2 separate regions of the Homo sapiens genome follow, and region 2 is linked to region 1. A link means that fine-mapping ties the variant in region 1 to the expression of a gene that starts in the linked region. Tissue or cell type: tibial nerve. Region 1 holds a variant in brackets; the other region holds the start of a gene. All regions are shown on one strand. Distances are between the middles of the regions.

Region 1 (6,182 bases):
AAAAAACAAAAAAAAAAAAAAAGGAAAATCAAAAAAGCAGATGATAATGGTGGTGTGTTTAGGGGGAATCACTTTAGCTACAGAGGTGAGAGAAGCCAGTATTTAAGCTGAGATCGCCATGCAATGGGGACTCAGCCCCGCAGAGACCTGGAGAAGAGCACCCGAGACTGCAAAGGCCCTGAGGCAGGAAGCGTTTAAGGCATTGGAGCACCAGCCTGGAAGGGTGGAGGGGCTGCAGGGTGGTGGGCATGACAGGGGTCAGTGTGTGGCTGGGTCAGGGGAGGAGAGGACATGGCCGAGGCCTCACCCTGCAGAACACGTGGCTCTTGTTCTATGTGGGGGTAGCACTGGCGATGTGGGCAGGGGAATGACTCGGTTTTAAGCATCTTACCTGGGAACATCTGGTTTTTCAGATGGCTTTCCCGGAGCACACCATCACACAGGGAGCTTCTGTCTGACTCCTATCTGAAGCCCCAGCGCACAGGTTGGGGCCCGGCACATAGGATGGCTTCAGCATAAGATGGCCTGCAGGATCAGGGTCAGCAATGAGGAAAAAGTTACCAATGAGCCTTGAGTGTCCTCCAAGGCTGATTGCAGAAGAGGATGTGGCTGGCTTGGAGAAGACTAGACTGCTCTCTGGGAGGAAGCTTGATGCTGCCAGTATCCCTCCAGCCCAGAAGGGAAGACCAGCTCTTACCACCACAGAGACCAGGGCTTGCAGAGGGAATGCGAGCCGCTGCAAAGGGCTGAACCCTCCTCTTCCTGCCTTAGCCAGTCTCCTGAGCTTCCCAGGCCCTCACATGGGGCCTGAGTGGGCACTCGCCAGGTGTTAGGTCTGACAAAGGTGTGAATGAATGAAGAAATGAATGAGTGATGCTGTCCTACTGGTCCAGGAAGGAAAGGTGCTGGCGTCCCCTGGGTCTGGAAGACCTTCCCCTGCTCTTTGTAAGTTCCTCCTCAGCTGGTGTCCTGTGGTGTCCTGGCTGGAAGGAATGATGGCCAGGAGATATACAGACCATATGGGCGGGGGGCGGGGGCCCTGCCCTGCCTGTTCATCCTTGTCCACTGCCCACAGGGACTGGAGAGGGGCCGCCCACGATGGCTTTCACTCCACACCTCCATATGCTGGGATGCGGGGGTTGGGGGGCTGGACTTTTAGAAAAATCCTGATACTTATTGCTTTTTTTTTTTTTCCTGCTCTGAAACTTTTTCTGGTTACAAAAGTTTGCTGTGGAAATTTTAGAAACAGCTGAGAACAAATGTGCAGGCACAGAGATGCACACACAAAAATGCTCTGTGTCCCATTACCCAGAGATGACCAGCATGAACATTGTGGTGTTTGTCCTTCCAGAACTTCCAAGCACAGTCATGTATGTGTATCTTTTTCAAATACCTTTCTAGTAAACCATTCTAACCTGCTCTTTTAAAGATTTATTTATTTATTTTTATTTTTTAGACAGAGTCTTGCTCTGTCACCAGGCTGGAGTACAATGGTGCGATCTTGGCTCACTGCAACCTCTGCCTCCTGGGTTCAAGTGATTCTCCTGCTTCAGCCTCCCGAGTAGCTGGGACTACAGGCACCCGCCACCACGCCCGGCTAATTCTTGTATTTTTAGTAGAGACAGGGTTTCTCCATGTTGGCCAGGATGATATTGATCTCCTGGCCTCGTGATCCGCCCACCTCAGCCTCCCAAAAACCTGCTTCTTTGACTGAATAGCTTGGGAACATCTTTCTGCATCACTGAATAGTGTTTTGCATCCTTTTTAATGCTGCAGAATATAAATTCCAGTGTTACTTCACCTGTCCCCTTTAGATTGACACTAAAGTTGTTTCTCTCTCTCTCTCTCTTTTTTTTTTTTTTTTTTTTGATACTAAGTCTCGCTGTCACCCAGGCTGGAGTGCAGTGGCATGATCTTGGCTCACTGTAACCTCCACCTCCCAGGTTCAAGCGATTCTCCTGCCTCAGCCTCCCGAGTAGCTGGGATTACAGGCACCCACCACCACACCTGGCTAATTTTTGTATTTTTAGTAGAGACAGGGTTTCACCATGTTACCCAGGCTGATCTCGAACTCCTGACCTCAAGTGATCCACCCGCCTTGGCCTCCCAAAGTGCTGGAATTACAGGTGTGAGCTACCGTGCCCAGCCAAGGATAACAGTTTTTCTCATTGTAGAAAATACATGCCACATAAGACTTCCCGTTTTATCCCTTTTAAAGTTTACAGTTCAGTGGCATTGAGAACATTCCCAATGTTTTGCAACCACCACCACCATCTACTTCTGGAATGTTTCCATCACCCCTTAGCAGTCACTCCTAATTCCCCCTCCCCCAGCCTCTGGTTTCCTGCCTGTTCTGGGCATTTCATAGAGCTGAGTCACTCAACGTGTGGCCCCTGACCCAGCTTCTTTCCCTGGCCATCATGCTGTTAAGGTCCCCCACACTGTGGCCTGTGTCCCGGCTTCATTCCCGTTCGTGCTGAACGACATCCCATTGTATGGGAAGATGGCATTTTGTTGATCTTTGCGTCCACTGA[C/T]GGGTATTCGAGTTGACATTTGGTTCTTGTGAATTTGCTGCTGTGAACACTTGTGTATAGGTTTTTGTGTAGACGTGTGTTTTGAGTTCTTTGGAGTGTTATTCAGCAGTAGGACTGAGGGATGGTATGAGCCATTCCGTTTGAGGTTTTTTTTTGTTTTTTTTTTGTTTTTTTTTTTATGGAGTTTTGCTCTTGTTGCCCAGGCTGGAGTGCGGTGGCACCATCTCCGCTCACTGCAACCTCTGCCTCCCGGCTTCAAGCAATTATCCTGCCTCAGCCTCCCGAGTAGCTGAGATTACAGGCATGCGCCACCACGCTGAGCTAATTTTGCAATTTTAGTAGAGACAGGGTTTCTCCATGTTGGTCAGGCTGGTCTCGAACTCCTAACCTCAGGTGATCCACCTGCCTCAGCCTCCCAAAGTGCTGGGATTACAGGTTTGAGCCACCACGCCCAGCCCTAGTTTGAGTTTTTGAGGAACCTCCGTTCCACAACCTCTCCAGCCCCCATGTGAGCACGCACTGCATGCCCGTGGTCACTCTCTCAGGCTCCAGGCCTGGAGGGCGAGTGACAGATAGGGGTGGGATCCGTGCTTTGCTTGCTTTGCTTTGCACTGCCTTGCACTGCCAAATTGCTCTCCAGAAAGCCTGTCCCGTGCCCACCCAGGTGCGGGCTTGCTTCAGTGCCTGCTGGGCCTCATGTGGGTGATTGGCACCTTGAGGTGTCATGGACCACCCCGGGGGGACCACTGACACATCCTTCCCTCCCTGGGACCTCGTTTCAGTCTCTGGGGGCCCTGGCTGTCCCTGGCACATCTGGAGGTTGCCCCTAGAGTTGGGGGGGCAGCTCAGGGAAAACTTGTCCTTGTGGGGTCAGGACCCCAGCAGGCGGCACTGGCCTGTGCACTGTGGGGGAGGGAAGGCTGGCCTGTAGGGCCCCCACCAGGGAAGCCAGGGCCAGGAAGGGCCCTCTGCCACACAGCCTCTTCCCGAGCAAGCCCTGGTCATGCTAGAACTGTGTCCTTTGTGAATCACTGATGTGGAGGGCTAGGAAGGGCTGGGACGTGGAATGGGGAATGAAGGAGGGAGGGTCCGCAGGCCCTCTGGGTGGTGGCTGAGGGACTGGAGCTGATTTTTTGCCACTGCAGAGTGACATGTGAGAGTCATTTTAGCAGACATTCCCCAAGTGCAGGGGCAAAGAGATGAAGGAGGGCAGTTCGGAATATTCCAGACAGAGGGCATGGGGTTGTTTCTGTGTAGAAAGATGGCAGGGGAAGTCAGGGGTCAGGGAAGAGCCCCAGTGCCTGAGGTCGGTGGGCTCCACGGATGTGACATCTGAGGACCCCAGGGGTGAGGGGATATGCACACCCAGACTCCCATGCCGGGATCCTGAGCACCCACGAACCATGGCTATGGAGGCAGGGAGCCTCCCCAGGGCTGGACCTCCAGGCACAGACGAGCAGAGGAGAGGACGTCTAGGCTGGAGGAGATCAGGAGGAGGCGCAGAGGTGGCCTGTGTGAGGACAGTGAGGGCCAGGCTGGCTGGGGCCATGCTTTGGAGCCTTGAACGCTGGTCTAAGGCTTCCACTGGCAGCTGTTGCAGAGGGTTCTGATCCATCTCTGTCCCCCATGCAGATGGGCTTGCTGAGGAAGGCCAGAGTGCTGGGGTGCTGCCTAGTGAGGGACAAGGAGGGACAGGAGCCGGTGGTGAGGAGCCTGCTGCTGAGAGGTGCCTCTCAGGGGCCGACATTGCCAGGGTCTAGTCTTGGTGGCCTCTGTGCTTGGGGCCAAATGCCCTTGGCCGCCTCTTTCCTTCTCTTTTATGGGTCTCCAGTCCCGCCTGGGACGGAGAGGGTTACTGGAGACACGCTTTGTACTTCAATAGGCACTTTCATCTGCAGCCTTTGGAGGGCTTTGCAAACATGGCTTAATGAAGGGTCCCAGCACCCCAGCCTCCTAAGCACCGTTTTGAGCTGGATGCATGCAGAACAGAGGGATTAAGTGATTTGTCCAGGATTGCACAGCAAAGCTGAGTGGATTCCCCTGCCGTCCCCTGAGGCTCAGGGCTGCGTTGGGCTGTGCCCTCCACCTTCCCTCTCTGCTTGCTGGGTCTTGTCCTTTGGGAGCCCCCGAGCTCTCAGCTGACGGCCTTCTGCCCCTGGAAATCCATGCGTCCCCTTGCTTGCCAGCTGCCAGCCCACGAGCAAGCCGGTCAAGGCGGTCTCTGATTTCGACGGCCGAGGAGGGGACCTTTCAGGAAGGGGTGGCCGTAGGCGAGGGTTGATCGCTGGGCCTGGAATCTGCTCCCACAGGGCCTGTGGGGCCTCACGGGGCTGCTGCTGGCTTCAGCCTCTGGGTGCTGGGCTGGCAGGGGTGAGGGGGCTGAGCAGAGATGCCTGCGTGTGGGGCGGGGCGAGCCCGGCCCCTGTCCTGCTGGGAAATTCCTGACGTTCTTTCTTTGGGTCTGTGAGCTCATGAGCAAGTATGGTGGGTGCATTTTATAAACCGGAAAATAAATCATTCATTGAAATGGAGACAAATGCATTTCCAACCCAAAGTGTCAGGGGTCATCAAGGTCAAGGGCAGGGAGGCAGCCTGGCTGTCCCTGTGAGCTGAGACAGCATGACGTGTGCAGAGTCCTGGCTCACCCGCCACCTCTTCTCTCCAACCCCAGTTCCCCTGGCATTCCAGGCACCCACCTCGCTCCCCTCGTGATGACAGGAGCCTTCAGGTGGTCTCTCCTCCTTGTTCCACAGTGATCTGTTCTCAGTCCCACAGTCAGAAGACCCTTTTACAGCTCAAGTCTCATCAGGCTCCTGCTCAGCTTAAATTCCCCCAATGGCGGCCAGGCGTGGTGGCTCACGCCTGTAATCTCAGCACTTTGGGAGGCCAAGGTGGGCAGATCACGAGGTCAGGAGTTCGAGACCAGCCTGACCAACGTGGTGAAACTGCGTCTCTACTCAAAATACAAAAATTAGCCAGGCATGGTGGCGGGCACCTGTAATCCCAGCTACTCGGGAGCCTGAGGCAGGAGAATCGCTTGAACCAGGGAGGCGGAAGTTGCAGTGAGCCGAGATCATGCCACTGCACTCCAGCCTGGGCGACAGAGCGGGCCTCCGTCTCAAAAAAAAAAAAAAAAAAAAAAGGCCCAGTGGCTCCCACTTCACTCCAAGCAAAGCTCGAGCCTTGCCATGGCCCCCTAGGCCCTTTGCTTCTGCAGCTCCCTCTCTGCTCTCCACCCACCCGCTGCTGCAGCTGCCCTGACCTCCTCTCTCTTCCAGTCCAGTCTCCTGGCCTTTGTCCCCACTGAGTCCTCTGCCTGAGGCACCCTCCCTGGATCCACTTGCAGGCTGCCCTCTCATCGATGCCCAAGGGACACTTTTTCTTCAGCACAGCTTCTCCCGAACACTGGAATTAAAGTGGCAGCCCCTCCCATCCCGCCCCCTCCCTGGCCTTCCCTGCAGCCCTCCCTTTCTTTCTTCTCCATTCTGCCTCTCCCCACCTCCTGAGACACTGTGTCATTTTCTTACTTGTTTTACTTGTCTTCTCTCCCCCACCTCAGCATAAGTGCCGTTGGAGTAGGATGTTTGTTCATTCACTACCACAGCAATAAGCTGTGGGCACCGGGAGGCCTGGGAGGTCCTCAGTGTG
Region 2 (5,686 bases), 30 kb after region 1:
ATTAATAGCAACAGGGCACAAAGGGAGTGGGCCTCTGAGGATGCTAGCCGAGAGCCAAGCCTGGGAGCTCCCTGAACTGGCTGCCCAAGCCTCAGGCGGGCCTTTCCAGACAGAGATGCTCCACGCCATACTACAGGGGATGACATCGGAATCCAATGTCACCTTTTTTTAAAACACAGAATAGCAGCACACTCGTGACAACTTTTGACAAGTTAAAGAAATCCAATGGTAAGATTCTCCACTGTTGCACCAGAAAAGTCAGAGTTGGTTTTTTGTTTTGTCTTTTTTTCCCCCCAGAAAATTAAAAAACACACCCGCAGAACTATAAATAATTTGGTGGCAATATATACACATTTAAATAATTAATTTAAATATCTTACACCTACTCTTGCATTAAACTCTTCATCCGAAGAAAGTGCACCAAGGTGACCCTCGGCACTGCCCTCCCAGGGGCTTCCCGAGGCTGAGGCAAGGGTCCTCTGGAGGGTCACAGCCTGGGGAGGAAGTGGGTGACCTTCATGGTGGGCGACACTCGGTTCCCCTTCTTGGTCTTCCCATTCTTGCTCAGGGCGATGAACATGCCGGGGTACTTGTAGGACTCGTAGGCGTTGTAGTTGTTGGGAAGGAGAATCTCCTTGAACGTGCACTCATCGGTGAAGAAGGGCTGCAGCAAAGCAGGGCAGTGTCAGGGCTGGGGCACCTCTTGGGCAAGGTACCCAGCCTGAAGCCAGGGGTCAGAACCCCCTTCTGTCCCACCCCCCACCCTGGGCTGAGATGTCTCTGCTGAGCAGTTAAGGTGTCAAGACCCACACAGGGTGAGAAGGGGACATGGCCAGCCCACAACAGCTGGTGCTCTCACCACCTGCCCTGCACCTAGCAGCCAGAGAATTCATTCCCTCCGTGTCCAGCCTCAAGCCCGCAGTTCCAACACTGAGACCTACCCCTCTGGACTAGAGAAGGGAAGGGCTCTCAATAGCGCCCTTTCCTCGGTCTGGGAGGGGCCCACTCAGGGATGGCAGGAACCTCATTGTTCCTGCCTTGGGGCTGCTTCCTTTGTCTGGGGAGGCCTGCCGGTCCCGTGACCTGGTGACCCTGCCACCCCTCCAAGACCCAGGCACAGGTGGGGCTGGAGAAGCCACGAGCCTGCTAGCCATGTCCGCTGTTCCCAACTAGGTGCCTAGCCAGACCCCTGCGGTACTCACCGAGCCATAGAGCTTGCCCTTGCTGCTCATGGCCACGAAGAACCGGCTGGCCACGCCGAAGATGCTCACCACGCCCCGCTCCACGGGCGAGAGCTCCAGCAGGCCTGGGGGCGGGGCGCAGGTCATTGCGGGGCAGGTGATCCCTGGCCCACTCCGCCCCTCGGCTTGTTCGCCTCCGGGGACCCTATTTCTGGGGTGGGGTTGGGGATAAAGGGCCAGGGTTCCCGGCGCAGCCGCCCCCAAGGGCCTCCAGAGCCCAAGCTGCCCTCTAGGGCCTCCGGAGCCCAAGCCTGCGCTAGCTCAGATTAGCTTGCCTGTGTAGGGGACCCCCGGCGGCCGCACCCAGTCCCGGACCTTCAGACGCGAGCCCGACCCCAGCGGTTCCCCAGCCTGGGCCAGGCCGGGGCGCGTGTCTCGGGCCCCCTGTGGCTGCACCGCGCGCCCTGTGCCCACGGGCGAAGGCGCTGGAATTCGGCGCTCGGAGCCCGAGTTTCTGAAGGCGGGAGGCGGCGCCCGACCTCAGGGGTTGCGCTGGGCTGCCGGAGCCAAGAGTGTCTGCGTCCCCAGCCCCGCGTCAGAAGGGACCGGAGCCCGAGTCCGCCCCGGTTCCCGGGGCCCCCGAGCAGGTGCCCGCCGAGGGTCTCAGAGTGTGACTGAGCGGGTTGGCCCGGCGGCCGTTGCCCCCCGCCCCCGCCCCTTCGCGCCTGGCCGCGCCACTCACTGTCGCGGGTGTCCGCGTGCGCGCCGCCGATGCGGCCGTCGGGGAGCGCCTGGAGGTGGAAGCCGATGCCCACGTTGCAGTAGAGCCGCCGCAGCCGCTTGATGCCCAGCAGGTAGTCGCCGGCGCCGCTCTGGACGGCCGCCTCCTTGGGCTGCGCTGCCACCGGCAGGCGCGCCAACGAGAGCGCCACCAGGCTCTCCCAGCGGCGCTCCAGCTCGGCCTCCAGCGTGCCGTTGGGTGCAGTGGGTGCGGCGGCGCCCCCTCGGCCCGCCCAGGGCGCCAGCAAGGCCAGCAGGACCGCCGGGAGCAGCGCTACCGCGGCCGTCCCGGGCCCCGACATCCCGGCCCGAGGGCCGTGCGTCGGTCAGGCGGTCAGTGCGCCCGGGAAGCTGGGGGGCAGAGCTGCGCCTGTGGCGTCCCGCGGGAGCGCACGGCCGACCTCGGGCAGGAGTGCGCAACCGAGGAGGTGCGGGAGGCAAGCGACGGGGCCCCCGGGCGCCGGGCTCTACCCCGGCTGCATGGAGCGGCGAGCCGGGCGGAAAGCGCGCGGCTGGAGCTGGGACTCTGAGGAGCAGTGCGCGCCTCCCTGAGCGCCAGGCCCGCCCGAGGCCGAGCCGCTATATATATAGCCCGGCGCCCCCTCCTACTCGCCCGCTCCCGCGGGGGGCCGTTCGCGTTCTCCTGGGCGCCCGGGGCGCTGTGGCGTTCGCGGCTGGTCGCAGGCCGCCTGCCAATCAGGGCCGGGGGAAGGGAGGAGGCTGGGGACTAGCGCCGCGAGTGCCACCTGGAGGGACCCCGGCCCCCACCCTTGGCTCCGCCCGGCCCACGGACCTGTTCGTCCCGCCCCTTGGCGGCTCCTACACTTCTGCTTTTCAGCCAGTTTTGCCTCTTGCACTTTGTCCCTGCCTGTCCCCGTCCCCGTCTCCCTCTCTGCTCCGGCCGCCTTGGCGCAGCCCTAACTCGGGCATCCGAAGCTCCTAGTGGGCGCAGAAGCCAGCGGCTGCTGCCTGCCCTTCGCCTTTCGGAGGCTCACGGGAACTTGGTTCCTTTGCTGGGGCCTTGAGGACCGGCCTGGGAAGGAGGGGTGGATAAGAGCAGTAAGCGACACCGGGGCCTGGCTGGGCAAGGGAGGACCCTTTGGCTACAGGCGGGAGGGAGGCCACCCCCACCCCCTAGGTCTTGGCCCCACAGGCTTGGCGCGTTTCTGGGCTGGAGTTCTGAATACCTGGTGGAGGTCCACCTGAGCCAAAGGGCAAGGTGGCAGAGATGCACCCAGGGAGGCCTGGTCCTGCACCCCCTACACACACACCCTTCCGTGAAAGGACAGGTAGCAGGGCATAGGGCCAGAGGGGATATTCAGCATCCCCTGCTCCTTTGATTCCACAGCAGAAATATCCATGTACCATAGCCAGAGCCCTCAATCTAGCAGGGACCCAGGCCAGGCCTCTGGAAGCCTCCCCTCTCTCACTCATGGTTCTACCTCCCACTGTGCCCATTATGGCCTGATGGGGACTGTCCTAGCTAGATGCAGGCCCACCTAGGTGTGAAAACCCCTGTTCTTTGTGGTCCCTGAGGAGCCTGCCTGGCCCTTCCTGCAGGCCCGCCTAGCCACAGCTGCAGGGGGCTTGGTGCCTACCCCATCTCTCATACCACCAGCACCTGTGACCAGAGATGTCCCCAGGCCACCGCAGCCTCCTCCACCTCCACCGCATCCCCACAGGGAGATTCCTGGGACCCCTTCAGAACCCTGCTGGGGCTTATTCGTGCCCCTGGAGGGGACCTGGGAGGCTTGAGGGCTCTTCTCTGAGGTGCAGAAAGGGGGGCACTTGGGGGTCATCAAGTGGCTTTGGCAGGACCGGAACCTCAGCTCCGCACCCCTTGAGAGGATCTTTGTTCCTCCTTGGGCCTGCAGCCTGCTTGGGCAGCGCCACCCAGACCTGGACCTTCCTGGGCTGCAGCTCACAGCTTCGAGATGCAACCCGGCTGCCTCTGGGTCCTGGGGTCCCCCAGATGAGCCTGCAGATCTGGTGCCAAATAGACATCGTTGGCCAGGGTGCAGGGTGCAGGGTGCAGGGGACCTAGAACCCATCCCTCACTTGCTGTGTTGTCTTTCCATCTCTAGGTCCCTGACTCCCCATTTGCAAAATGACATGGGAGGTGGGCTTTCCTCCCTCAGCCTGGGGCCAACCGAACACACCCTCTGGGGAAGTGAGACCCAGGCCTGGAGACCCACCTGTGCCAGCTGACCTGAGCAGAGGGACTCTGATGTCTTCCCCCGGCTTTTGATAGGATGAGGCTCCTTTCTTCCCAGGACTCCCACAGCAAGCTCAATTTAGGGCTTCCCAAGGACCCCTCCCTGTCTCTCCTATTTGCTGTGAGTTCAGCAAAGGACGCTGCAGGCAGCTGATATATCTCCCAGAACTGCAGGCCCACCCACACAGGATAGGTGCTTGTGGTGACTGGGGACTGACAGCCAGCAGGGCTTTTGGGAGCTGGGAATTCCCAGCAGAACTGATCTGGAATCTGGCTTCCACTTTGCTCCGGGTGCTCCCTGAGCACACTCTCAACCTCCGCAGGCCCTGGCCTCCTCAGCTGTGCAATGGAGGCAACAAAAGCACAGGTAAGGAAGAATTGCGGATGAAGGATGCACCAGGAAGCACTCACTTATCTGCATCTGACCCCTTTCCGTGCCCCTGGCCCTTGACCTGGCTTCCCACCTGCTTCCTTTCTGCTCCTGTGTTCCCGCCATGCTGACCGCGTCATCTCTCCCCTTCCCACTGGATGACCCCCGGCCCCAGATCTTCCTGCCAATGACTTATCCCATTCAGGTTTGCCTGAATGGAGAAGCCACTCCATTGGAGTAGCCACTCGGGGATGCCTTCTGGATCCCCTGCCCAGTCCTTCTGGTTGGAGCTTCTTTGAGCTCTTAAGAGAACCTTCTGCACTTGTTAGCTGACCCTCCACCGCATTTAGATTGTCATCTCCATGGAGCAAGCCCGGATTTGTGTTGTTGCCAGTTGTACCTCCAGTGCTGGGCACATAGTAGGTGCTCAATAGCTGTTTGTGAGTAAATGGCTGGCTAGGTACACTAGGAGCTCATCCATCAGCAATCCTCACTGCAAGCTGCCCTGCCCAATCTGCCACTGTGCCCCGGGGCAGACAAACAGAGGTACCTGCAAAGGCCTCAGGCAGAGCTGCCCCTATGGGAAGGTCTGCATTGCCTTTTTTTTTCTTTATGTGAAAGAAATAGTTGGACCAAGGTGACTAAATCTTTTCCAGATCTGGTTACTTCTCAGCAGAGAGACAAGGGGACCTATATATAATTTTTTTTTTTTTTTTGAGATAGTATCTTGCTCCATTGCCCAGGCTAAAGTGCAGTGGCTCTATCATAGCTCTACAGCCTCAAACTTCCAGGCTTAAGCAATCCTCCAGCCTCAGTCTCCTGAGTAGCTGGGACTACACACTCAGCTAATTTTTTGTTTTCTTTTTTAGTAGAGACGAGGTCTCGCTGTATTGCCCGGGCTGGACTCAAACTTTTGACCTCAAGCAATCCTCCCGCCTCAGCCTCCCAAAGTGCTGGGATTACAGGCATGAGCCACTGCACCTGGCCAGGTGATCTAGAAACAGGACCCTCACTTAGCTTGGACCCAAAGCCCTTCTGCCATGCTTTACCCCAGGACGCCCGCTTTGCCAAGTCCTGGGGTTCGAGGAAGGCTTGGGGCCATGTTGGGCTTCCGGTTGGGTTCAAGTTTAGGCTGTCTCC

Which allele goes with the higher level. Positions count from the first base shown, and alleles are read on the strand shown. Sizes are in standard deviations (SD) of each study's normalised expression.
For the expression in tibial nerve of the gene that starts at base 2,520 in region 2, allele C in region 1 goes with a higher level than allele T (small effect, 0.31 SD a copy in GTEx).

Evidence for each region. PIP is the estimated chance that this variant, and not a neighbour inherited with it, causes the effect.
Region 2: it holds the start of FGF4, and the variant in region 1 is fine-mapped to the expression of FGF4 in tibial nerve (GTEx, PIP 0.95).

What each region holds. Positions count from the first base shown.
Region 1 is chr11:69,742,310-69,748,491 of GRCh38, forward strand. No RefSeq gene overlaps it. Among named protein-coding and RNA genes, the nearest start is that of FGF4, 30 kb to the right of the region's middle. The variant C/T (reference allele first, on the strand shown) is at 2,535.
Region 2 is chr11:69,772,822-69,778,507 of GRCh38, forward strand. It overlaps FGF4 (fibroblast growth factor 4), which reads right to left and starts at 2,520. Exons shown (of 3, transcript NM_002007.4): 1 at 1,924-2,520; 2 at 1,203-1,306; 3 at 1-664. The coding sequence starts at 2,263. The coding sequence ends at 488. RefSeq lists enhancers at 494-1,419, 3,269-4,192 and promoters at 2,409-3,521, 2,409-2,804.